7 linked regions of the Homo sapiens genome follow. The protein of the gene in region 3 interacts with the protein of the main gene of each other region in a biochemical or structural test. Each region holds a gene or a part of one and is shown on either strand. Other genes may lie near its edges.

Region 1 (3,500 bases), on a different chromosome or scaffold from region 3:
TGCAGAGCTAGGAAGGCAGTGACCGCCATAACCATCCTTTCTCTTGGAAAGCAGACTCAGGTGGCCATCCTGACCTTTGGTTCTCCCTGCCTGCAAGTGCTTCTGCTTTATGGTGGCGTGAAAATGGAACTGGCTGTAGGAGGCTGAGATGAGCTTTTATGTATGGCCAGAATCCATCTGGTCAATCGCCGTGGAATGAAAGACAGGAAAGAGGAGCTGCAGGGAGGCTCCAGGTGGGCTCACTTTGTCTCATTTGCTCAGCCATCTCACTAACTGCTGCTCTTTAAACAGTCAGAGGTTATTCTATTTTTCTTCTTAGCATCATTGTGGAACAAATAATGAATGAGGAACATAGATACTTAATGTTTTTAGATGTCCTCCACATGCACCTTACCAGTAGGTCAGGAGGTTACAAAAGGTCATGGCTGGTTAAGAGTATGGGCTCCTGGCTGGGTGCAGTGGCTCACGCCTGTAATCCTAACACTTTGGGAGGTGGAGGCGGATGGATCACTTGAGATCAGAAGTTCAAAACCAGTCTGGCCAACATGGTGAAAACCTCTACTAAAAATACAAAAAATTTAGCCAGGCGTGGTGGCACACACCTGTAGTCCCAGCTACTTAGGAGGCTGAGGCAGGAGAATTGCCTGAACCCAGGGGGTGGAGGTTGCAGTGAACCAAGATCGCACCACTGCACTCCAGCCTGGGCGACAGAGGGAGACTCTTGTCTCAAAAAAAAAAAAAAAAAAAAGCATGGGCTCAGAGGTCGGATGACCAGCAGCTAAATTGAGGCTCACCTCACTCTAGCTGTGACCCTGGGCAAACTGCTTACTGTCACTCAACCTCAGTTCTTAGTAAAACAGGGATGATGACAATACCTACCAACCATACACGACTGTTAGCTTTATTATTTTACCAACATCTTGTACCTCCTGGAGGACCTTCTATGTAACAGCATTCATTGCAACAACACTCTTCAGTTTAAAGGTTGAGTTAAAAAGATCACTTTAAAGTCCCAAGTCAAATAAACTACAACAAACTCACATGAGAAAAATCACAGGGCCAATGCTTTGAGCAAAGGCATAAGTCTTACCTCACAGGAATAGCTTTAGGCACTGTGCTGATATTATTTATTTGATATTTAGGCTTCTCTGCATGGATAGAGAAAGTTTCAACTCCACTGTCAAACTCAGGAGGCTGTGCCAAACTGTGCGATTTCACAAGAGTTTTTGGAGAAGTGGGAGTTTTTGAAGACAAGTCAGGTTTATGTGCAGTTTCACTTGGCAGAAGATTGTGATTGAATTTAGGACTTTCAAACTTGCGTTCAAATGGTCGGGCAGAACTTGTATATGGTTTTGGTGTGAATCGATTGTATGCTGGAGTGACTGTTTTCTGAGTCTGTTCAGTTCCATTAACTGGGGCTTTATCTGGAAAACTTTTCTGGGGATAGAAAGCTGCCTGAGCAGTATCTTCTCGGTTTGGTGGTCTGAAAGTTGCTGGCTTATTCTGAGATGGAGGTGGGTCTGGTTTGGACACTAAGGAATTCTGAAAATCCAATGACACTGAATTACCTGAAAAACAAACGTAAGCATTTAAATAACTTTCTGAAAAAAGTTATAATAGCCCTGTCCCAGCTTAACTTGTCCTGGTGCTGGAGTCGAGGCCCAAATGTGGGTCGCACAGCCAGAGCCTGACTCTTGAGCCCTGGAGGCTAGGTGTGATGCTGAGGGATGAGGGCAGCATGGACAGGTGGTGCCATGAATATATATACCCTGCTGCCCTGGAGTCAGGGTCCAGCTGCTAAGATTCCTGGCCTCCAAAGATTGGCACTAGTCTTTGTGAAAACTAGAATGCCCAATAATCATATAATAAGGATACTCACTATTAATTAGAAAAATGTAAAACAAAACCAACAAAAAGCATTAAATACTATTTCACACCCACTAGAATGGAAAAACCGAAAAGTCTGATGATGCCAAACATTGGTTAAAAAGTGGAACCACAGGATTTTTTATGCACTGCCAGCCACAGTGTAACACAGTACCAACTGAACTCTGTGAAATAATTAAGGACACTACAAGACAGGAGAATTATTAATCCAAATACCTCATGAATATAGTAATATAATTTTCCACAGTACGAGAAGAAAAATCATATGGTCATCTTAATACATGCAGGAAAAACATCTGACTGCTTTCAGCAAACTCTGAATATAGGGAATGTCTTAAACATGATAAAGGACATCTACGAAAATCCTAGAGCTAACATTCTAAAGGATAAAACATGAGGTCCTTCCTCCTTAAAATCAGGAACTAGCAAAAGAGGTCCAATTTCACCACTTACATTTCAGAGTTTATTGGAGGTCCTGGCCAGTGCAATCAGCAAGAAAAGAAAGAAGGCTAGGTGCGGTGGCTCATGCCTGTAATCCCAGCACTCTTGAGAGGCCGAGGTGGGCGGATCACCTGAGGTCAGGAGTTCGTGACCAGCCTGGCTAACATGATGAAACCCTGTCTCTACAAAAAATACAAAAATTAGCCGGGCGTGGTGGTGTGCGCCTATAGTCCCAGCTACTCAGGAGGCTGAGGCAGGAGAATCACCTGAACCCGAGAGGCAGAGGTTGCAGTGAGCTGAGACTGCGCCACTGCACTGTAGCCTGGGCGAGAGCAAGGCTTCGTCTCAAAAAGAGGAAAAAAAAAAAGAGAAAAGGCATAAGGACTGGAAAGTAAGAATTAAAACTGTCTTTATCTGTAAACATGGGCATGTGTGAAAAAAAATCTTAATAAAAGATAGCCTCAATCCAGAACTATAACACATCTGCTTGAAGACTCACAAGCCCAAGGAGGTGCCTCCTAAGGGAATAATAAGAGAAGTCTGTGCTAGGAAAATGCCTGTCCACAGCAGAAGAGATAACCACTTTGTGTTATATGCTGAGGGTAAAATGTTACAAAGCTCTTAAGATGAATAATCTGGAGCTATATGTGATCTACCTGGTATGTAAATGCAAAAGTCAAGGTGTATGGGATACATTTTATATGAAACATTATGGCTTTTCTATTTGGGTGTGTGAGATAAAACATAGTAGGTTTTACAAACCATCTTTACATATACTGGCAAACACTACTTCCAGAAGATTTAGAGACTAGCATAAAATAGATTAAAATCTGTTTAGCTAAAAGGCTTGTCCAAAATAATGGTCTTGTAAAAACAGGAGACATACTTTTAACAAAATTCTTAGTTTTTACTGTTCCCAGCCCAAAGGTTTCAAGCATGTATTTTTTAATGTAAAAACCATTTTGCCTAGAAACCACCAGAATTTTACTTCATAAGCATTACTGTGTTAAAATGTCTACTTCCGAACTTCCTACCTTCACCATGTGCTCCCTTAGAATGTATGTGGAGAGACGCGCTGGTGACAGGCTGAGATGGCTGGGCATACTGCGAGGGCAATGGAGGAGGAGGGGGAGTGGCCTGGATGGGTTCATAGCGTTTCTCGCCAAATGATC
Region 2 (3,500 bases), on a different chromosome or scaffold from region 3:
CCCCTCCCGACGTTTCTCCCCGCCCCCCTACATGTACGTCGAAAATTTCCAGAGACTGAACCTAGTCCCTAACCTCTTCCAGCCACATTCTGGAAACCCTGGCACCCATTTCTTGTTCCCCATTTTCTCCATGTTGCCTCCCAATCCTGAGGAGCCTTTTCTTCAGTGCCAGACACCACCCTCCCTCCATGGGGGTGGGGCAGGGAGAGGTATTGGGGGCTCGCTGAGATAAAAGTTTACCTTCATTTCCTCCCTAGAATAAATGATGAAATGGCCCTCCTCATGTTTCCATTTTCTTTGGGTGCACGCTGACATTTCCTCCTCAGATTCAGGAATTTTCTCTCTGAGGTGGAGTGAAGATGGAGAGGCACTGGACTCAAACCCTCCCCCAGACTCCAAAACTTGGAGCTTTGGTCCTAATTTACCTTGCAGGGAATTGGAGGCCTTGTGAAGGAAGAGTGGATAGCGGAGAGCGGCTTCCACCCCTTCCCCCAGGTCTCAATTCTGGGGCTTGCCCCTCAGCTTGTGCACTGCCCAGGTAGAAGACCACCTTCTCAGGATGTGGAATGAACAGTCTCTGTTGGTTCATAGAACTCCTTTATTCAAGACAGCTCAGCCTTGGAGGAGGGCTATTTTGTGTGTTCTCCTATTTTCCTTCTCTACTTTTTGTGCCCATCGGATTGAAATCTGGAGTTCAGGATTCTCTCCAAGTCTGTGGCCCAGAGAATAGACTCAATCTTGCTGAGCCCGTTTTCCTTCTTTAAGACTCTTTAAATGTATCAGGGTGCTTCTTGATTTGAGTTGTCTCTGTGTTCTGGGTTTGAGAGTTTTCGTGCTGACAGGACCACTTCCCTTCTCCCATTCTCTTACTGTACCCTTACTCTACAGCCAAAGTTGTGTTATATTCTCAGCCTTGATTCATCATCTTTAACATTTTCAGAATCCTACTCAAGGATTGGCCATTGACCTTGATAAGCTTCCTCCCATTTGATCTCGCAGCTGCTGCCCTCTAAGTATTAGGGCACTCTCAGCCTCTCAGAAACTTTTGGGAGGGAAATTCTGCTCGCCCTCTCTCTTTTTTGTTTTGGAGATGGAGTCTCACTCTGTCGCCAGGCTAGAGTGCAGTGGCATGATCTCGGCTCACTGCAACCTCCGCTTCCCAGGTTCAAGCAATTCTCCTGCCTCAGCCTCCCATGTAGCTAGGATTACAGCCATGTGCCACCACGCCCAGCTAATTTTTGTATTTTTAGTAGAGATGGGATTTCACCATGTTGGCCAGGCTGGTCTCTGACCTCAGGTGATGTACCCACCTCGGCATTATAAGCATCAGCCACTGCTCCTGGCCTCTCTCTCTTTTTGAGACAGGGTCTTACTCTGTTGCCCAGGCTGGAGTGCGGTGGCGTGATCATGGCTCACTGCAGCCTCCACCTCTTGGGCTCAAGCAATCCTCCCACCTCAGCCTCCTTAGCAGTTGGGACTACAGGTGTGCACCACCATGCCTGGCTAATTTTTGTATTTTTTGTAGACAGGGTTTCACTGTGTTGCCCAGGCTGGTCTCCAACTCCAGCTCCTGGGCTCAAGCTGTCTGCCTGCCTCAGCCTCCCAAAGTGCTGGGATTGCCGTGCCTTCTCTTTTTACCCATGTGTACTGGGCGGTGCATTCTGTCTTCTTCAGTTCCTGAGGGATCCCTGCGTATGATACCTTCCCCTTCCTGAACCTGGAGCTTGGAGGGTCAGTCTCTGTGGAGGCCCGTTCCAGAGGAGAGGAGCAGGCGAGGGCAGAGGCGGACACGGAAGGACCCAGGCAGAAACGCTGTCTTCTTCTGCTGTCTCCATCTGCCCTTTTCCTCCTTCTCTGGCCCCCAGTTAATCTCATTTTACTGTTGTCCCTATTAAGCTAGCACAGGAGGCCCTTGGGATGGCAGCTGATTAACTGGGCAGGGAGTCAGGGGTCATGTTGGGCCTTTCACCCCAAAAGAGCAGAGGGAGACCAGAAATTCACTCTGAGGCTCAGCATGCTACCCTCCTCCCCAACCAGGGAGGCTGGCACCCATTCTTGCCCCTGTCCTGAGCCCTGCTGTCTCTGTTCTTCCCCTTCCTCCCCCAGCCCATGCCCTTATAGCATAACCGGATTAGCTGGCTGGGCTGTGGGCTGTTGCAGGGGTAGGGCCAGACTCCCGGGGCCCCTCTGTTGACTGCTTGGAAACCAGCAAGGGCAGTGAACTGGACAGGCTTAGCCTTGTCCTGTCTCGGGGGCTGATACCAAGTACCTTCTGGTGGAAGGGGTGACTTCAGTCCTTGCCTAAGGAGTGCAAGGTAAAGGAGAGCCAATCACCTGTGGGGTAGAGGCTGCAATGGGGAGACTGAGGCCATGGAGGTGGGGCGCGGGGAGGATGCCATGCAGAGTAGGAGCAGCCAGAGGGGTAGGGGAGGGGAGGCTAGAACAAGAGTGAGTCTGAGATGGTGAGAGAAGCAAGGAAGTTGGGGACTGGAGGCAGAGAATGGAGATGTGAGTGTCGGGGCTAGAGCTCTGAGAAGCTGGAGGGACTCGAAGATGAAGGTGGTGGGGAAAGGGGTGAAGACACAGATGCCAGAGGGGCTATGCCCACCAGAAGGCCAGTGTCCCAGGATGTGAGGAGTAGGAGTTGGGGGATGGGATTGGGACCTGGGGATTGATGAGAGGTGCTGAGGCCCTGGCGGGAGAGGGGGCTGTTGGGAGAGTGGAGAGAGGGGAGCCAATGGGCTAGAGGAGAGGGAGGGGGAGGAGCTGGTCAGGCCCCAGGGCCTTCCGCACTGCACTGGCTGGGGGAAGAGGCGGCGGCCAGGGCGGCCAGCCTGGAGCCTGAGGCACCGGGCTGGCCCCAGTGACACCTCCGTCCCCATCCCCAGAAATACCGCTACCAAGATGAAGACACGCCCCCTCTGGAGCACAGCCCGGCCCACCTCCCCAACCAGGTAAACGCCCCCGAGCTGGTGCACGTGGCGGAGAGGAACTTGTCCCACCTCGAGGCTGGCCACGGGGTCGTGGGCCACGCCCACCTCTCCCCCTTCAAGGTAGGAGACCCTGGTGGCCCCCTCCCCAGTGCGGCCCTCGGAGCCTCGGAGCTGCAGCAATCCCTAAGGGCCGGTAGGGTGAGAGAGAGCCGTGGGGAGGGGGATGCTGGGACTGGGGGCGGGGGTTTGGGGCTTGGGCTCCTGGGGTCTGGGGGAGGGGGCGTTTGTGGGGCTGGAAACACCTTGGTCCCACAGAGGAGAAACAGGCCAGGCCAATGGGAGTGGATGTAAAGCCTAAAGCAAGAATGTGTGTGTGCGCGCGTGCCTGTGCGCGTGTGCTGTGTGTGTGCCTGTGCGTGTGTGCATGCATGCGTGCCTGTGTGTGTGCTGTGTGTGTGTGTGCGTGCGTGCGCCGTTTGTGTGCCTGTGCGTGTGCTGTATGCGTGTGTGTTGAGGTGTGTGCATCCCCCAAGAGGCCCCCACGCCTGGGACCTCTTCATTCCTTCA
Region 3 (3,500 bases):
TTTCAGCCTGAAACAATGCCATATTTCGATCTAAAATAGTGATAGTAGCACATACCGGGTGTAAGTAAGTATCTGCTAAGCAAATAAACATATATACCTACATCAGGTTTACGTTTGGAATTAAACTTTTTAACTGGAAAAAACCTCTTATGTGTCAATATATGATAAGTCATTTATTATTGGTGTTCAAGCAGAGCCATGATAAATAATAATTCCGAGACCATGATAATCATGAATTTAGGGAGTACATACTAGTGGCCTCCAGTTCAGTTTCTTTTTTTCTTTTCTTTTTTTAACACAGGATCTCACTTTTGCCACCCAGGCTGGAGGGAAGTGGCATAATCATAGCTCACTGCAGCCTCAAATTCCTGGGTTCAAGAGATCCTCCTGCCTTAGCCTTCTGAGTAGCTGAAACCATAGGCGCTTGCCCCCACCTATGGCTAATTTTTAAATTTTTATAGAGACAGTGTCTCGCTGTAATGCCCAGATTAGTCTCGAATTCCTGGCCTCAAGCGATCCTCTTGCCTTGGCCTCCCAAAATGCTGGGCTTAAAGGCATGAGCCACTGCACCTGGCCCCAGTCTGTGTTTCTTTGGAAAAGAATGAAATTGAAGTTTTAATCCTATTCCTTGGACCCATTTTTGAAGAGCAAACAGGAGCTGCTCTACTTAATTGTAAACACTTTAGACTCCCACAAATGCAGACTGCAAGGACAGTGACCTTCCATTGTGTAGTGTGAAATATTTCCATACAGAAAACAATTTCACTAACACCGTGGCTATCAAAAACAGCAAAACAAACTTATTTTTAGCAAAACAGGATAATGAAGGCTTCTTTCATAGCAATCATTGTGCTGCAGGGCTATCTGGGTCTCCGCTGCCAAATGCTGAACCAGCTGTATTTTAAACTTCAGTCCTCGAGCTCCCCAGCCAGAGCCCAGACAGCAGGTAGAGGCAAGACAGAGAGGGGAAGCCTGTCAGTCCCTTGCAAGTTTGAAGAGAGCCTGTGAGGATAACCCAAACTGGTTCATCACTTGCCACCAGGGCTACTCGGACAGTGTGGTTTCGCTCTTTTTGTGAAATTCATTTTAATCTATGGTTTTGAGGTTTTATAGCTGACTCTGACTGCAGTCATTAAATAAACAAAAAAATGGGGGACTCATCCATTTATATATACTCCCAGAAAACATTAGCATGTACCCTAATTTGCATTGCCTTTAGTTACTTCCATGCTTTGTTAACAGAAAGTGCAAGTTGTCGGGAATTTACCAAAGGTTAAATTCTACAATCTGGTCATTTAGAACGCGGAATGCATTTCCCAGATGATAAACAGTGGGTAGAATCCCAGGCCAACCCATTCGATTCTTAATACAACAGGGAAAATAACAGTAGTCTTTGAACTTTATGTAATCACCACTGATAACATTTTTCCCGAGTTTCTCACTCTGAGATGCCCCGTCCCAGCCCTGGTATTGGCAGCAGGACCCACTTTGGTCTCTTGACACAAGCATGAGAGGAGAAGTGGGCAGGGCAGATTCTGATCTGGTCAGGTCCTTCTTTTGTGCCAACCAGAACCCGGATTTGGAAAATGAGGTACCTTTCTCCAGCATGAACAGCAGCCATAACTTGTTAATTTTGCGCATGCACAAAGAAGGCAATTTACAAGGACGATCATTGGCCAGATTTTCTGAAATGGAGAGCAAAGAGCAGGGGATAAACTCCCCTGCCAGCCATAAATGTAATGGAGTTGCTCGTAAGCCTGAGATTTGTAAATTCTCAGTGTTCTAAGGCTACCAGTCCTTACAACACCCACAGATTGGAGCCAAGATGATTCCAACAAACCCTTTCAGAGTTCATCTTTTGCAAAGCAGACCTCTACAGCCTTGCTTTCTAACAGTTCCTGAGGGCAAAACTTACAAGTAACACCACCAGGAGAAGTGTTAGTAAAAACCTAGTCAAGGAGGCCATTATTTTTGACAGGTCTAATTTACTGACACTGTTAATAGCTAATTAACACATTAAGGTGCTGAGGCATGAACATATTTATTTAGAAGTTCTCTGAAGTATAATTTATAGTTAGTTCTCCTGGGAGAAATGGCAAGCATTCCCACTAGCAAAAATAGATGGCATACACTAAAAACAAGCTGGCTGAAAATCATACTCAGCTGAAGTTCAAGTGGTACTTTGAAAGGAGTATGGGTTAACAATAAACAGAAATCACAAGCTCATTCAGCTGTGAAATTTTCAAATAGTAAAATACAGTGACTTTAAATTAATGAACTCTGTTGGAGGAAAGCTTCAAGGTGTTCCTTAAAAGTTAAGTGTTTTCCAAATTATGTGTACTTTATTTTCAATTGCAAATCAGCAAAAAACGAAAACATCCACTTGGTGGAGACAATTCGCTAATAGCACCTGTGCTAGTTGATGGATTTAGGGGGGAAAAAAGAATGTGCTTTTCTTTTCCTGGTAGCTTTGTGTACTTCTGCAAATCCTTTGAGAGAACAGTGGTATGGGGAGGGCAGGAACTCTGAGTTTCACCTCTGGTGCTTCTATTTACCCAAGGTATGTACTTGGTTATAGGACCTAATCTCTTTGAGGCTCAGTTCTCTCATCTGTAAAACAGGGATGGCAGCACCTCCTTCACAGGATGAATAATATGGATGTCTGCTGAGCAGTAAGAAAGTCATCAAAGCATCCCGTCATATTATAATACTACAATGGATTCTAAGCAGAAATTAGAGCTGGGTTCTTAATATGGCATAACGTTAAATCTAGACATATAGCTTTGCTAGGCCTCATTTTTCTTATAAGGAAAACAAGTGGCAATGATACCCCTAGGGGAGGGGAATCAGAGATTTCTTTATATAAGAAATTTAGGGCTGGGCGCATGGCTCATGCCTGTAATCCCAGCACTTTGAGAGGCAGAGGCGGGCAGATCACTTGAGGTCAGGAGTTCAAGACCAGCCTGGCCAACATGGTGAAACCCTGTCTCTACTAAAAATACAAAAATCAGCCAGGTGTGGCAGTGGGTGCCTGTAATCCCAGCTACTCAGGAGGCTGAGGCAGGAGAATTGCTTGAACCCGGGAGGTGGAAGTTGCAGTGAGCAGAGATCATGCCATGGCACTCTGTCCTGGGGGACAGAGTGAAACTTTGTCTCAAAAAAAAAAAGAAAAGAAATTCAGAATAATGACCTCGTCGTTTGACTCCAAGAGTTCTTCTACCTAACACAAGATAGGCAAGAGTCACGAGCCTTCTCTCTCCCTTCCTGGATTCTCTTCCCAATCTAGAGCTCATACCTGGGTTTAAGGGGAGGGCTGTTCCACTCAGGCCACCATGGCCACTTTCTCCAAAGGCAATGTCAGGACCAGCACCCACCAGATGTGGCTGACCTGGGAATGCAAGGTAGAGGACAAACAGAGGGCCCCTACCCTGGAAGCTTCCACTTGCAGGTGGGGGAATCAACTCCCCTCCACAGGAAAACACAGTTGCATGATTTAACCC
Region 4 (3,500 bases), on a different chromosome or scaffold from region 3:
ATTCTCCTTGATTCAGGCTGCTCTCCTTGGAGTTAGAGTTTGTCAGTCAAGAACGCTTGCCAATCCCAAATAAAATGATGCTTAGAGCCGTTTAAAAACTGAGCCTGCGTTGTCCTTTAGTAACAGTGAAGTGTGTATGAAGATGCACCAGATCAGTCTTCTCAGGACAACAGGTCAGAAAACGGAGGAATTTTTTTTTATTGCATGCACTGGATGACTCAGAAGCTAACTCTCATTGTTGACTGAAATGAGAGCGGCCTGTGCTTGCCTGGATAAAAAGTCCTGTCCCAGTGGCTGGATGAGGGGACGATCTGAACCTTGAATCAGGAGGCTGCTTTCGTTTCCTAAAACCCAGATCTCTGGTAAACAAATGATGGGAGAGCCAGAAAGGAAGGTTAGGAGGTCAGGATCTCGGTACTGGTTTCCACATCCTGCCACATTCCAGGAGAGTTTTGCCTGATAAAGTCATAGCATGTGCGGGCCAGAAGGGACCTCAAGGATCAACTTGTCCTCATTTTTTGGGGTCAGGGTGCTGATGGGGAATGCACCATAATAGCGGCACCACACTAGCTGCGCTGAGGGCTAATCGGAAACTGTAGCTGCTGAAAACTGCATCAGATACTGAGGTTTAGGACCCAACTTGTGTGTCCTGGTTTGGTGCCTTGAAGAACCTGTTACCTGTGGTTCAGCCATAAGGAGACACCCAGGTGTTCATAAGATCTTCCTCAACTGGATCCCGAGAGTCAAGGGCCTTCTCCAAAGGGTGGCCAGAGCCCTGTGGGCACTGGGAGCCTGGGGGTGTTACTGCCACCTTGATCCTGCGGACTTGGAATTCCCATCCAGGAAGGTCTTGTAATGTGGAAAAAAAAAGTTGTGAACTTACCCTGGGATGATGACAGTAATATTTTTAGTATACCTTAGTTTAGAAAATCTAACCAGATACCTTGGTTAGAGATAGTACTCTGAGGTGAGTACTATTTCAAAATGAGTTTGGATCTTGTTCATTCTAATAGCATCTGTATTCACTTGAAAAATGGTTGTACATCAGTGTAGGAGATGTGATATGTATTGAGTCCGCATGTATTGCTCTGTAGGCAGGTGAATTTAAGGACCTATTGCAGTAATTGATTGGCTTCCCCCAAGCATCAATGATCTGTCAATTTGGAACCACTGGTTTTAGAAGCATCAGTCTGCAGAAAACCAGCCGTCTATAGGGAATGACCCTAGTCATTTTGGGAGATTAAACCAGTATAAACCTATACTACCATACTTTAGGATATCCTTGATTGCTTTTAACAATTTTTTTTTAAATTTTTATTTTATTATTATTATTATTTTTTGAGACGAAATCTCACTCTGTTGCCCAGGCTGGAGTACAGAGGCATGATCTTGGCTCACTGCAACCTCCACCTTCTGGGTTCAAGTGATCCTCCTGCCTCAGCCTCCTGAATAGCTGAGATCACACCCGGCTAATTTTTTTGTATTTTTGTTAGAGACAGGGTTTCACCATGCTGGCCAGGCTGGTCTCAAACTCGTGGCCTCAGGTGATCCGCCTGCCTTGGCCTCCCAAAGTGCTGGGATTACAGGCATGAGCCACCATGCCTGGTCAACAATTTTTTAAATTAAAAAGTAATTCAATATTATTGTAAAAAACATTGCAAAACTGTATAACTGTGAACAATTTAGTGTGCAGTGTTTCCACTTTCTTTTGTATATATAACATTATTAAGATTTTTAAAGAAATAGGGTATTATAGTATATAATGTTCTCTAAATGTGTGTGTGTGTGTTTTTTTAAATGTAATTGTTAACTAATTTTAAGGAAGCAAACGTGGTTCAGTGGGAAGGACATCAGATCTGTTCGGGGTTTGTTTCCTGGCTCAGTAATACACTAGTTGGAGGACCAGTAATATAATAATATACTAGTTGGGTGATCCTGGGTAAGTCATAGGTCTTTCTAAGCCTCAGATCCTGGTCTTGGAAATGGGGACTGCTATTTGTCCTCCTTTCTCATAAGGTTGCTATAGGGATACAATGAGATCATATTAGAAAAGCCCTCTTTGTCAATGATAATATAAATGATTGTTATTATTTAAGCTATGATTTCAGCCCTCTTTTCTTTTTCAGGGCTTTGCTCCATATCAGTGAATACTTAACTTGGTGGTAACTTAGTGGTTTGGAGACAAATAGTAACTAGCCTGCTTTCCCCTTTTTTTCTAGGTCACTCCTGGAAGCAAGGCGGCTCTAGCTAATTTATGTATTGGAGATGTAATCACAGCCATTGATGGGGAAAATACTAGCAATATGACACACTTGGAAGCTCAGAACAGAATCAAAGGCTGCACAGACAACTTGACTCTCACTGTAGCCAGGTGAAGCCTATGGAAACGTTTTGTTCATTTCTGATTGACTAGAAGCTGTTTGTGGGCAGGGACTGCCTTCCCTATCTCAGAATCCCCCAGACCTCCTAGCTCAGTGCCATGTATATACTATAGGCATGCCAAAAGGTCTGTGGAATTTGAACTTCAGATTGCTTATTTCCCCTCTATTTTTTTTTTTTTTTTTTTTGAGACGGAGTCTCACTCTGTTGCCCAGGCTGGAGTGCAGTGGTGCAATCTCAGCTCACTGCAACCTCTGCCTCCCGGGTTCAAGTGACTCTCCTGCCTTAGCCTCCTGAGTAGCTGGGATTACAGATGTGCACCACCACACCCAGCAAATTTTTGTATTTTTAGTAGAGATGGGGTTTCACCATGTTGGCCAGGCTGGCCTCGAACTCCTGACCTCAGGTGATCCACCTGCCTTGGCCTCCCAAAGTGCTAGGATTACAGGTGTGAGCCACCGTGCCCAGCCCCCCTCTGATTTTCACGGTGCTTATGATGTGGGCTTCTTTCAGTAAGATACTTGCATTTTCACTTGATCCAACTCAACCAAAATTTTGAGTAAGTAAAATGTCCTGGCCAGGTGCGGTGGCTCTCTTTGTAATCCCAGCACTTTGGGAGGCCGAGGCAGACAAATCACTTGAGGTCTGGAGTTTGAGACCAGCCTGGCCAACATGGTGAAACCCTATCTCCACTAAAAATTAAAAAATTAGCCAGGTGTGGTAGCGTGCACCTGTAGTTCCAGCTACTCGGGAGGCCGAGGCAGGAGAATCACTTGAACCCAGGAGGCAGAGTTTGCAGTGAGCTGAGATGGCGTCACTGCACTCCAGCCTGGGCGACAGAGCGAAACTCCATCTCAAAAAAAAAAATGTCCTTAGGATGCTGCTGCTACTGCATTGTGCTGAGCAGTGGGTACCATGCCAGGAGATTGCAATAACAGAGAAAAACTTGAACACATTAGCAGCAGAGTACTGAGTGTAACTTTAGGTACATGACAAGCAAGGAGCGCTGGGGATAAAAGAATGAATGAGGGTAGCACCTTGGGAGCTGTAATTAGGGTAGAATTTCCATTCTTCTTTCATTTAGCCTTGGAAGGGGTCCCGCAAAGGCAGGATTTCGGAAG
Region 5 (3,500 bases), on a different chromosome or scaffold from region 3:
GCTGAGATTGATATTTTTGAATACTTAAGAGCCAGGGTTTATTGAACTCATACTCTGTTCTAGAACTTTACTAGGCATGGGAGACATGGAGATGAATGGGTACCACCCTTGTCTTCTAGGAACTCATGGTCCAGGATAAATAATATGATATTTTTTCCTTTGTGGTCATCAGTTCAAGGAATACCGGTCAAAATGGTAACAGAAGATCAAATTTAAAATTTAAATTCATGGTACAGGTTCACCAATGATTTCCTAGAGAGATTGAATTGCCAGTTTGTATTGTCATTCTTTAATCTCAGGACTAGTACCTGTTGGGCCTTATTATTTTTATTCATATTTGGTATGACACATAATAGTACTCCATAGCCCTTTCAGTTGTGCTTCTTTGATAAGGTTGTACATTTTCTGTGTTAATTTCCAGCTTGCTTTCTTCATGTGAGAGTTGTCAATTCACTTGCTTTGAGCATGTGAAATGTGGGTATCTACTATGTGTATTTATGCCCATTCTTCATATATTTGTATTATAAGCTTTCCCCACTTCAGGATTTTTTTAAATTTACTTATTTTCAGCTGCTTTATTGATAGATAATTTACATACCATACAATTCCCCCATTTGAAGTGTACAATTCAATGGTTCTTAGTGTATTCACAGATCTGCAACTGTCACAAGTCCATTTTGGAAGGTTTTCATCCCCCACAAAGGAAACCTATACCTATTAGCAGTGACTCCCAAACCTCCCAAACCTCCCTCCCTGAAGCCTTGGACAACCCCTAATCTACTTTCTGTCTCTATAGATTAGTCTGTTCTAGATATTTCATGTTAATGGAATCATACAATATGTGGTCATTTGTGACTGGCTTTCACTTAGCCAGATTCATCCATGTTTCATTCCTTTTTATTGCCAAATATTCTGTTCTGGAATACGGTATTTTATTTATCCATGTCATTAGTTGATGGACATTCGAGTTGTTTCCACTTTTGGACATTTACAGAAAATGCTGCTATAAATATTCATGTGCAAGTTTTTGTGTAGACATTTATTTTCATTTCTCTCCGGTACATACCCAGGAGTGCAATTGCTGGATCATGTTGTACACCATGTTTAGTCTTTTAAGAAACTTCCAGACACTTAAAGGACTTTCTAGAATTTCTATTCAGTTTCATTGGTGAAAGCCACACTATGCAGTTTTGATTATTGCCTTTGTCTGAAAGGAGTGCTTACTTTTCAACTGTAACTTTTCTGAAATCTAAGTATTTCTGATAGAAATTTAGAGTTCAAATTGATACGCGCTGTAAGTGTAAAATAGACCCTGGATTTTGAAGACTTAATATGAAAGAATGCAAAATCTCTCATCAATAATTTTTTGTATTAACTACGAGTTGAAATGATACTATTTTGGATATATTGAGTTAAATAAAATATATGTTATTAAAATTTATTTCACTTATTTTTTTCCTGTTTTTATGTAGCTATTAGAAAACTTAAATTTACGTATGCGGTGTGTATATTTCATTTGGACCGCACTGCTCTAGAAGCAGTGCTAGTGTGCCTATTGAAGAAAGTAGCCCCAATTTGAAACCTGCTTCCCAGCTGTATGACTTTAAGCAAGTTAAAATCTCTCAGAGCAAGATTTAGTCTTTTCACCTATAAAACAGGAATAATAATTGTACCCACCTCAAAAGTTTGAGGGTTGAGTGAGATATATATATATATATAATGTTAAATCACTCCCTAAAATATAGTTAGTATTCATAAATGTTATTAATTATTATTGTCGTTATTGCTGTGATTACCATCAATTTGTCAAGTTGTTTTTTAATCTGGAAGAATTTTTTATTTATATTACATTAAATCTCTATTTAATTTAGAACTTTTTTTTTTTTTGATACTTAGTGTTTCCATCCAGGAACCCAGCATAACTTTAACCCAATTATTGTGTTTTCCTTTATTGCTTTAAGGAAAGTTATATTATTTTCTTTAAATAAATCCTTCTTCCCCTGAATTACATTAGTACACATCACTAGTTTTGTTACTTGAATCCTTTCTTGGCATTTTCTAGATATTTAGCATTCACTCATTAAGAATGCCTAACACCGAATGTACATTCAGCTAATCTGCTTTTAATGAATTGTTTGATCCTTTTTGTGGCTGTGTTTTGTGTTTTTATCCTGCATCTCCACTAAACTTATCTTCTGGCACTAAAAATTTTCTTTGTTCATCATTTTCTGTGTGAATGTCATCTGCTAAAAAACAAAAAAAAAATAATAAGGTGGTACTTTTCCATTCCTGTGCTCATTATTCCTCTTGTCATTTTTCCTTCCCTGATAACTATTATTAGCATTTATCCTACTACATTAAATAAAACACCAAATTGTTTGTTTGTTTGTTTTTGAGATAGTCTCGCTCTGTCACCCAGGCTGGAGAGCAGTGGCATGATCTCAGCTCACTGCAACCTCAGCCTCTTGAGTAGCTGGTACCACAGGTGTACACCACCAAGTCCTGCTATTTTTTTGTATTTTTAATAGAGACAGGGTATTGCCATGTTGCCCAGGCTGGTCTTGAGCTCTGGGACTCAAGTGATTAGCTAGCCTCAGCTTCCCTAAGTGCTGGGATTACAGGCATGAGGCACTGCACCTGTAATGTCAAATGTTGATTTTTGACTTTTAGTATAGAGTGTTATTTATTGCATTTAGAAAAACCTTTTTATAGCTCTAAATGTTTTTTACAAAATCAGGAATAGGCTGGGTGCGGTGGCTCCTGCCTGTAATCCCAGCACTTTGGGTGGCTGAGAGGCAGATCACTTGAGCTCAGAAGATTGAGACCAGCCTGGACAACATGGAGAAACCCCATCCCTACTAAAAATACAAAAAATTAACCGGGTGTGGTAGCACGAGCCTGTAGTCCCAGCTACTCAAGAGGCTGAGGCATGAGAACCGCTTGAACCAGTGAGCTGAGATCATGCCACTGCACTCTAGCCTGAGTGACAGAGTAAAACCCTCCCTCAAAATAAATAAATAAATAAATAAATAAATAAATAAATAAATAAAAGATTGAAAAAAAATCAGGAAGAGCTATGGGCTTTATTTAGTGTGAATTTTCAGTTTTCTGTTTCTTCCCTCTCATTAGGTCTCTCTGCTGCTCCAGCTCAGTATTACCTGCATGCTGGCCTAGAAGAAAGACTCCCTCTGCTTCTAGGTTGTGTGGGCTGGGTCATCTATTCATACAGATCCTAAATTTGCTCTAAGTCAGGGCCTGGGGGGGATCCTTGGTGGATAGTGTACACGAGACTTTGGACTTGTGCTTGTCACTTACATTTTGGCTCTGTGAGACAGTTTTTCATATTTCCGGATCCTTGTTGAAACTGGAGATCATTATAAATGAGAGGGAGATGATTTTCAGATAAGTGAGGGCCTATTGCATTAGGCAGGGTTCCTGAAAGTGTTTGGTAAATGGATGAGAATAAATGATAGACCTTAACCGCAGAGTCCCAAGACAGC
Region 6 (3,500 bases), on a different chromosome or scaffold from region 3:
ATTTTGGCTAAAACCAAAAAGCCTGATTCAGAAATGTAGTTTTATTATAAGTTCATGGTTAACTGTTCAGTAACTTGGTGAAATAGTTCTATTATTTATTTTTTGCTATCCACCAGTATTATAGGAAGGAAATTTAATTAAAAAACATTAAAAATGCTATGGAAGTGGAGACATGAGCCAATAAAAGTTAAGGAGTAATGAGTACAGGCTGAAACAGCACGCTTAACTCAACCCATGTGTCTAGATGCAACTGTGTATAGAGCATGTCAGACAAGTGTCTGACTTCATAATGCCATATGGTTTCACTGTGTGAGCACAGGGGCTTCGTTAAGGTCATAGTGGTATACTTTGCTCTTAATTTCCTTCCATTTATTGGTTTGTGCCATTATTTTAAATTAGAATTTACATTTAATTTTTTTACTAAGATTACTGTAATTGGCTTTGCCTCCAATGTATTTTTTTATTTTTTTTTCTTTTAGAAAAATGTTGCCACACCTGTTGTTGAATAAGAAACCTAATCTAAGTTAGATCATCCTAATAAGTAAATTATAGTGGCTGCTCTGCTAGATAAAGCCTCAATGAATTCATTAGATACCATCGCAGAGGGGTGCTGAATGCTGCTTGTATTGAGGGCCATTGGCTTTCCCAGTAAAAACAAAGCAAACATAAAAAAAACACCAAAGTTCTTGCAACTAAAATGCAACTTAATTTTATTCAGATTTTTAAAATCAATGTGGTTTTTGTGAATTAAAAACATGAAATCTAATTCGTTTCAGTACAGATGCATAATATGCCTCAGTTTCATAGGGAAGACAGCTAAACAGGAGAGAGAAGGAGAAGGACTGGATGAAGGCTGATAAAGACTGTGAGAAGAGATGTTCAAACCAAAATTCTAAGCTGGTAGAGTCACTGAGGCTGTGTGACATTGGGAAAAGAACAGGAAGGGGGCAAGGAGAAGATGTTGGTGCCTAAATGATAATTAGAAGAGCAAGAAGAATTGTTACCCCTCTAATTCTGTGAGGCTGTGGATTTCAGCATCCTTTATCACTGTTCATTAATGCAAATTAACTGGTTAGTCTCGGCCTATAACTCCTCGACAGCATTAATCTTTAAATTCTGCGAGTCTTGGTCCCAAATGAGACAGCTACCACAGCCCACCAGTTCAGGGCAAAGAGGATAATGAGGTATTGTTTTCTGAGCCTTCTTGTATTGGTCTGGATGAAATCAAACTGGAGGGAATCTATCCCTTCCACGGAGCAGAGAGGGCAGAAGTGGTTTGTTGCCAGGGACCAAACTAATAAAATCAGTCAGTTTTACATTTTACCAAAATTACCTCTGACACATGGGTTTTACAGTTGGGCTTATTCTGTCAATAAATTTTTCATGGAAAGTTAGATTATTTAGATCAGTGAGGTTCACATAGCATACTCCAGCTGTAATATGCCAGCTAAATTGCAACCCAGTGGCCCGAAAGAATTAATTCATCTCCCAAAATGTGAAATTAAATCCTAGGGAGTAACATTACATGACTGATGATGTACTGAATTAAATTAAAGGAAGACTTGAATGCTTGTTAAAAAAATATCACTTACATAAACACGTTTATAACCACATGTGAGCCTCCTAATGAATCAAGTTATTGTGAATCCACCCTAACAAAAATCCAAAATGTGAACTCTTAGGATGCTGTTTAATTTAGGGAAAAAACCCATAAGTTTTATCTATTATTTTAATGTGTCAAATAGTTTCATTTTTAATACTGTGTTTCAAGATTAAAGTAACACAGAATATGACTAATTTGCTAACCTACTGGAACTAGGAAATGAACCACAAGACCCCACTGCACACTTGTGCCTATGACCCTGAGCCTTCCCTGCAGTAGATGGCATGGCTGTTTGCTGTTCTTTCTCCTGCAGCAGCGTGCTGTATTCATTTAACATTTTGAAGTGAGACCCAAATATCACTGCCATGCCTGTTGAGGTCTTGAGATGATGGGAGCTCATTAAGGGGACAGAGGTTCAACTCCGTGGCCACTCCAAACAGGAGGACTACTTTCTCTAATACTTGCATTGTAGATTCCCCTTTTCTATGGCTGACCCTGTTATTTACACATAAAATGTACTCATGTTTTATTTAGGTTTGAAATTTAATGTGAAGGTATTTTGTAATAGCACACATGGATTTTATACAAAAGAGAGTGACAAAGTCGAAAAGCAAGAGTATTGATAAAGTGCAGATCACAGTTTCTCCAAATGTAGCAGACTCCTCTTGCAGGACATATCTATCTTTCTTACTCTGGACACAGCTAAGCCTTGTCACATCACGAGGAGAAGGGAAATCCCACAAATAAGAAATAATGAAAATATGTATAAGTTCCATTTCTTACGGTTTTTGGTTTAGTTTTGGTTTATATATGTAACAGAATTGTGTATGTATGTGTGTACACACACACACACACACACATACACACACACATATTTTAATTCTAGTGGCTATAGTTTTCTTTCTTCTTTCCTTCTCTTCCAACCCTCCTGATTCTAAGCTACAGCCACAAAAATCCAGAGGCCTCTTTGTATCCTCTCTAATTTAGCCTCTTCTTGGTTGAAATTTTGGACAACTCTTCCCAAAGCCTGCCTTCATCATGTCGCTGCCCTACTCGGAAGCGGGGTCTGCTAGATGCCCCCCTCCAGGTCCATCAGATTAAGTTCATTGGCTGTTTGTTCAAAGCCTTTGTGTGTGGCACTGGTCTCCCATCTAGTTAGCTCTCAAATCTTTGAAGGCTCTAGGCTTGTTAATGTCTTTAGTTTTTGGACTTCAGCTGTCCCCCAAATGTATAGTGAAATTACCTGGTCCTGGTCCTATGACTTTGTCTCATACTCCTCCATCCTGATCACACAGGAAACACCCAACACATACTTGATTTGGTAGCACCAACAAATGGGATCCAGCTTCCTTCTAAACTGAGTAATATGATCTGAGCTTAAATGTTTCTTTACTTCTTAAAATGCAAATTTTTAGAATAGGTAGTAAGACTGCAAAAATGTTACTGTGAATATCCTAATGCTCTCCCACTGCTAAACATCACGTTGCCACGTTGGCACTAACTCAGACTTACTATAGTCAGGTGTGATGCCCTTCTCCAAACCACAAGTCTTTGGTGTCAACTCCAGTAAACTAGCCTTTCAATAAGTTTACTGCAAGCATGAGAAATGAAGTCGCAGATTGATGTTGGTACTTATGCATATTTATCTAGAAGGGCTTTTTCTCTTGTAGTCAGTTTTGGCTTTTTTTGGATTAGGGATTAAAATAACAAACAGTTGCCTGAATATAAAGTAAAATTTCTTTTGTAAATAGAAATCAATATGTATTTCTGAATAGTTGCAAGTGGAGAAATAATTAGCATTTATTATTCAGTAATTATATTTCAATCTAAATTTTGCATTTAGGATTCTAGGACTCTTCATCCGAGGCATTGAAGACAACAGCAGGTCCAAGCGGGA
Region 7 (3,368 bases), on a different chromosome or scaffold from region 3:
GGAGGGCACCAAGGGGCAGAGCCCAGCGAAGTGGAGGGGAGGGGTAAGGGAGGCAGGCCTCCAGGAGACAGCGTGGGCAGGTCCCCAAGGGGGCCTTGGTGGGTCGGCAGAGATGGTTCCGGCCCTGACCAGGAGGCCTGTGTCTGCTCAGACTGTCCACCCGTGATCGTCCAGAGGGGCTGGGGGTCCAACCCAGACAGGGTCACACAGCAAACAGGTAACAGACCCAGGGTGAAAAGAACAGACCTCTTGACTCCTCATCTGTTCCCTCAAATGGAAGAGCACTTTTCTGGCCTCCAGGGACCCCAGGTTGGAGACAGATGGAGGTGGGAGTGGGTGCCCCGTTTTCCTGAGACCCCTGTGAGAACTGGGCCAGGCAAAGCACATCCCCAGCCCTGGCTACACCTGCCCGCCCACTCCATCCCAGGCACCACTCACTAGACCACCAGGGGAGGCCCACACCCTTCTCAAAATGAAGAGGGTCTCTGATTTGTGGACACTGAGGACAATGATTTTAAGGGATGCTGGTGCTTCCAGATTTCAAGTGGGAATAGACTTCTTTGAATAAGCACTTTGGACACCCTCCACTGGGCAAGAGTGTCCCATCTTTTTCTCTGGCCCATTTCTCTCCCATCTCCCTCCCTCTTTCTCCTCTTCCTCCACTGATCTGGCTGTAAAGAGGAGCGCTACCGCCTCACAGGTCCTGCGTCCATCGCTTTTCAATTTTCACTGGATGGCAGGTGAATGGAAGCTCCAGGGTCTTTTGCCCCAAAATGACCCCTCCCACATGGAGGGGCTTGGGCTGAGCGGACGTGCAGATGGGTCAGTGGCCACACGGCCTACAGAAGAAGCAGGAGGGCTGAGAGCCCAAGGCCCATAGAGCCTGCCCAATGGGCCCAGAACCACAGTCTCAAGTCCCAGAAGCTTCAGACTGAGATGCTGAAATCAAAGAATCACCCACTTTCAGAATCAAAGGGCCAGCACTTCCTGGGATCCCAGACGCCCCAACTTAAGAGTCTCATAAGTGGGGACCAGATTCTGGGAATCTCAGAATCTCAGGACTAGCAAGCCCCAAACCCCTATTCTGGAGAAGCGAAGGAGCTGGGCTCCCATCCGAAGCAGCATCCTTCCTGGTGGCCGAGTCTCTAGATGAAGTGGCTCCCCATCAGGAAGCCAACCCCCAAGCGCGTGTGCACGCATCATGGGAATGCCTCATACCCCAATGCATGACTGCGCTGGGGTATCCAGCTCCTGCCTGCTCACCTCCTGTGACCGAGAACTCACTCCTCCTTGCAGCTCATTCCAGCTCCATGGCTTTGCTGGGAGGAAGTGCTCCCTACATCTTCGACCTCTCCAAGGAGGCCCCACAGAGACCTGGGACAGCCCCCAGGCCTCTCTCCTCTCGGCTGAGCAGCCTGTGCCAACCCTTCTTAAGGGAGGCTCCTCTGGGCATCTTGGAGACCCAACTTGGCGAGAGACCCCAGCTGTCACTCCAACTAGGGCAGGACCTCCCTGCCTGGCACCCCAGTCACCACAGACCTGGGGAACAGAGACCAAGCATCATCCCAGGCTCAGAGTCTGCCAGACCAACAGATGAATGAGTGGGTGGCCGCTTCTCCAGCCCAGCTACGTGTCTGGGAGCCAGGATCTGCCTGGGTGGCCCCTTAGGAGTTCGGCCCACATGCTGACTTCAGAGCATCCGGGGACTGCTGGGGCCTGGCGATCGGGGGGCCCGGCTGCTGTGTGCCGTGTGCGGCTTGCGGCTGATGATCAGCTCCAAGACATCACCCGCCTCGGCCAGGAGTGGCACCGCCAGGCAGCAGTCGAAGTCCCGTGTACGGACGTGGTTGACCTGCATGGGGCACAAGCAAGGGAACAGAACCGAGATGTCAGCCCTGCTGCGCTGAAGGGAGCAAGAGGCATGTGATGTCCTAAAGATGGGTCCTGCCCCAGCCTTGACGCAAGCCCTGACATCACCAGCACCACACACAGAGGAACATTCTTCCTCTAACTCTCTCTCAGTCCTTCTGTTAGGTTTCATCAAAGAGAAAGTTCTAGGAAGGGGCAGGTATACCTTTCATACCCCTCTAACTCTTGCTTTTCTCCCTTTCTCACATGAAAGAGCAGACCACACACTCAGAGAGCCTCCTGCCTAGAACTGTGTGATGTGACATTGTCTTCTTTCTATTTTATTTGCATTTTACACCCACTTTCTATTTCAAAGCAAGGGGTGCAAGATTTTCACTCCTAATGGAGACAAAAAGTTTCCTTTCAAAGTCAAATGTAAATTGAAAAAGTGCCATCAATTTAGAGAAAACATGAATTGAGTAAATTTCATATAAATATGGCAAAAAACACACTGAGGGAGCAAAAATAGCCAGGGCATGAGAAGGGGCGGCACGGAGTGCCCAGTACACGATGTCCCACGCTTCCCAGGCTCCCTCACAGTTAGTTAGGAAGGTCACATGAGGGGTTTGGTCCATCGGCTGTGAAGCAAGGTGATGAGTGTTGCTTCTGGGTGAAGGCGGAAAAAATCCACGTGTGACTTTCCAGTCTGTCTCCTCTGCTGTGGAGTCTGAGGAGGCCACGTGTCTCAGAGGGTCAATTCCAAGATGGGCGGATGCTCCATCAGCCCGGGACAAGAAGGCCCCCACCAGCCCACAATGGGCATGGGGTGTAAGAAGAAAGGTCTGTGTGTGCTCAGCCTCTGAGGCTGAGGGTGCTGGGGCCCGCAATGCAACTTTGGCTAACCTGACTCAGACTTGCATTGTCCTGCCCTCTTCACAGGCGATAGATGCAGGCTCTTTCCCCACCCTCAGGCTAGGAAACAATGCCACCCCCACTATGGAGCCCCTGCCCCAGCATTACCTGCAGGACCCTGTCGAAGGGCTGGAGGCCTCCACGGTGGGCTGGCCCATCAGGGCGCACAGTGTGGACATAGACACCTTTTTCCAGGAGGCCATCTGAGACGCTGAAACCAAAGTCATGCCGCATGGGGTCCTTGTGCAGGGTCACCTGGAAGCAGAAGGAGGAGGAGGTTCCTGGAACTCTGACCTTTGCCCCCAGCCTCTCACAGTAGCCCAGGTCCTTTGGTCTGGCATTCAGCGCCTCTGGCCAGCCACACCCCCCAGGCTGCAGCACCCCAGCCTCTTGCCCCTGGGCCTTCAGCCACCCCCGCCACCCCGCTCCCTGCCAACCTCCCTCAGCAGATGCTCCAGGCCACAACACTCAAGTACGACGGAGCCCTTAGGAGTGACTTCCTTTCAGCCCTTTCTCTGTCCTCTGGCTCTATCAGGGAGGAGGCCTGGCCAGGGCACTGTTACCTCCCCTGACCGTCACTCATTCCCATTTACCAAAGAGCTGCTCAG

The links.
Region 1: the proteins of CLDN10 (region 3) and TJP1 interact in a test that uses a peptide from one of them, tested with the Homo sapiens proteins (one large-scale study listed by IntAct).
Region 2: the proteins of CLDN10 (region 3) and DLG4 interact in a test that uses a peptide from one of them, tested with the Homo sapiens proteins (one large-scale study listed by IntAct).
Region 4: the proteins of CLDN10 (region 3) and PDLIM1 interact in a test that uses a peptide from one of them, tested with the Homo sapiens proteins (one large-scale study listed by IntAct).
Region 5: the proteins of CLDN10 (region 3) and FRMPD1 interact in a test that uses a peptide from one of them, tested with the Homo sapiens proteins (one large-scale study listed by IntAct).
Region 6: the proteins of CLDN10 (region 3) and PARD3B interact in a test that uses a peptide from one of them, tested with the Homo sapiens proteins (one large-scale study listed by IntAct).
Region 7: the proteins of CLDN10 (region 3) and GRIP2 interact in a test that uses a peptide from one of them, tested with the Homo sapiens proteins (one large-scale study listed by IntAct).

What each region holds. Positions count from the first base shown.
Region 1 is NC_000015.10:29,707,469-29,710,968, forward strand, and holds part of TJP1 (tight junction protein 1), read right to left. Parts: coding exon 3,363-3,500; intron 1,569-3,362; coding exon 1,091-1,568; intron 1-1,090. UniProt on the Homo sapiens protein: TJP1, TJP2, and TJP3 are closely related scaffolding proteins that link tight junction (TJ) transmembrane proteins such as claudins, junctional adhesion molecules, and occludin to the actin cytoskeleton.
Region 2 is NC_000017.11:7,207,628-7,211,127, reverse strand, and holds part of DLG4 (disks large homolog 4), read left to right. Parts: intron 1-2,888; coding exon 2,889-2,954; intron 2,955-3,500. UniProt on the Homo sapiens protein: Postsynaptic scaffolding protein that plays a critical role in synaptogenesis and synaptic plasticity by providing a platform for the postsynaptic clustering of crucial synaptic proteins.
Region 3 is NC_000013.11:95,555,720-95,559,219, reverse strand, and holds part of CLDN10 (claudin-10), read right to left. Parts: exon of another isoform or gene 3,296-3,500; intron 1,722-3,295; exon of another isoform or gene 1,642-1,721; coding exon of another isoform or gene 1,596-1,641; intron 1-1,595. UniProt on the Homo sapiens protein: Forms paracellular channels: polymerizes in tight junction strands with cation- and anion-selective channels through the strands, conveying epithelial permeability in a process known as paracellular tight junction permeability.
Region 4 is NC_000010.11:95,270,504-95,274,003, reverse strand, and holds part of PDLIM1 (PDZ and LIM domain protein 1), read left to right. Parts: intron 1-2,219; coding exon 2,220-2,371; intron 2,372-3,500. UniProt on the Homo sapiens protein: Cytoskeletal protein that may act as an adapter that brings other proteins (like kinases) to the cytoskeleton. Involved in assembly, disassembly and directioning of stress fibers in fibroblasts.
Region 5 is NC_000009.12:37,702,954-37,706,453, forward strand, and holds part of FRMPD1 (FERM and PDZ domain-containing protein 1), read left to right. Parts: intron 1-3,500. UniProt on the Homo sapiens protein: Stabilizes membrane-bound GPSM1, and thereby promotes its interaction with GNAI1.
Region 6 is NC_000002.12:205,115,475-205,118,974, forward strand, and holds part of PARD3B (partitioning defective 3 homolog B), read left to right. Parts: intron 1-3,446; coding exon 3,447-3,500. UniProt on the Homo sapiens protein: Putative adapter protein involved in asymmetrical cell division and cell polarization processes. May play a role in the formation of epithelial tight junctions.
Region 7 is NC_000003.12:14,491,975-14,495,342, forward strand, and holds part of GRIP2 (glutamate receptor-interacting protein 2), read right to left. Parts: intron 3,016-3,368; coding exon 2,869-3,015; intron 1,853-2,868; coding exon 1,691-1,852; 3' UTR 1-1,690.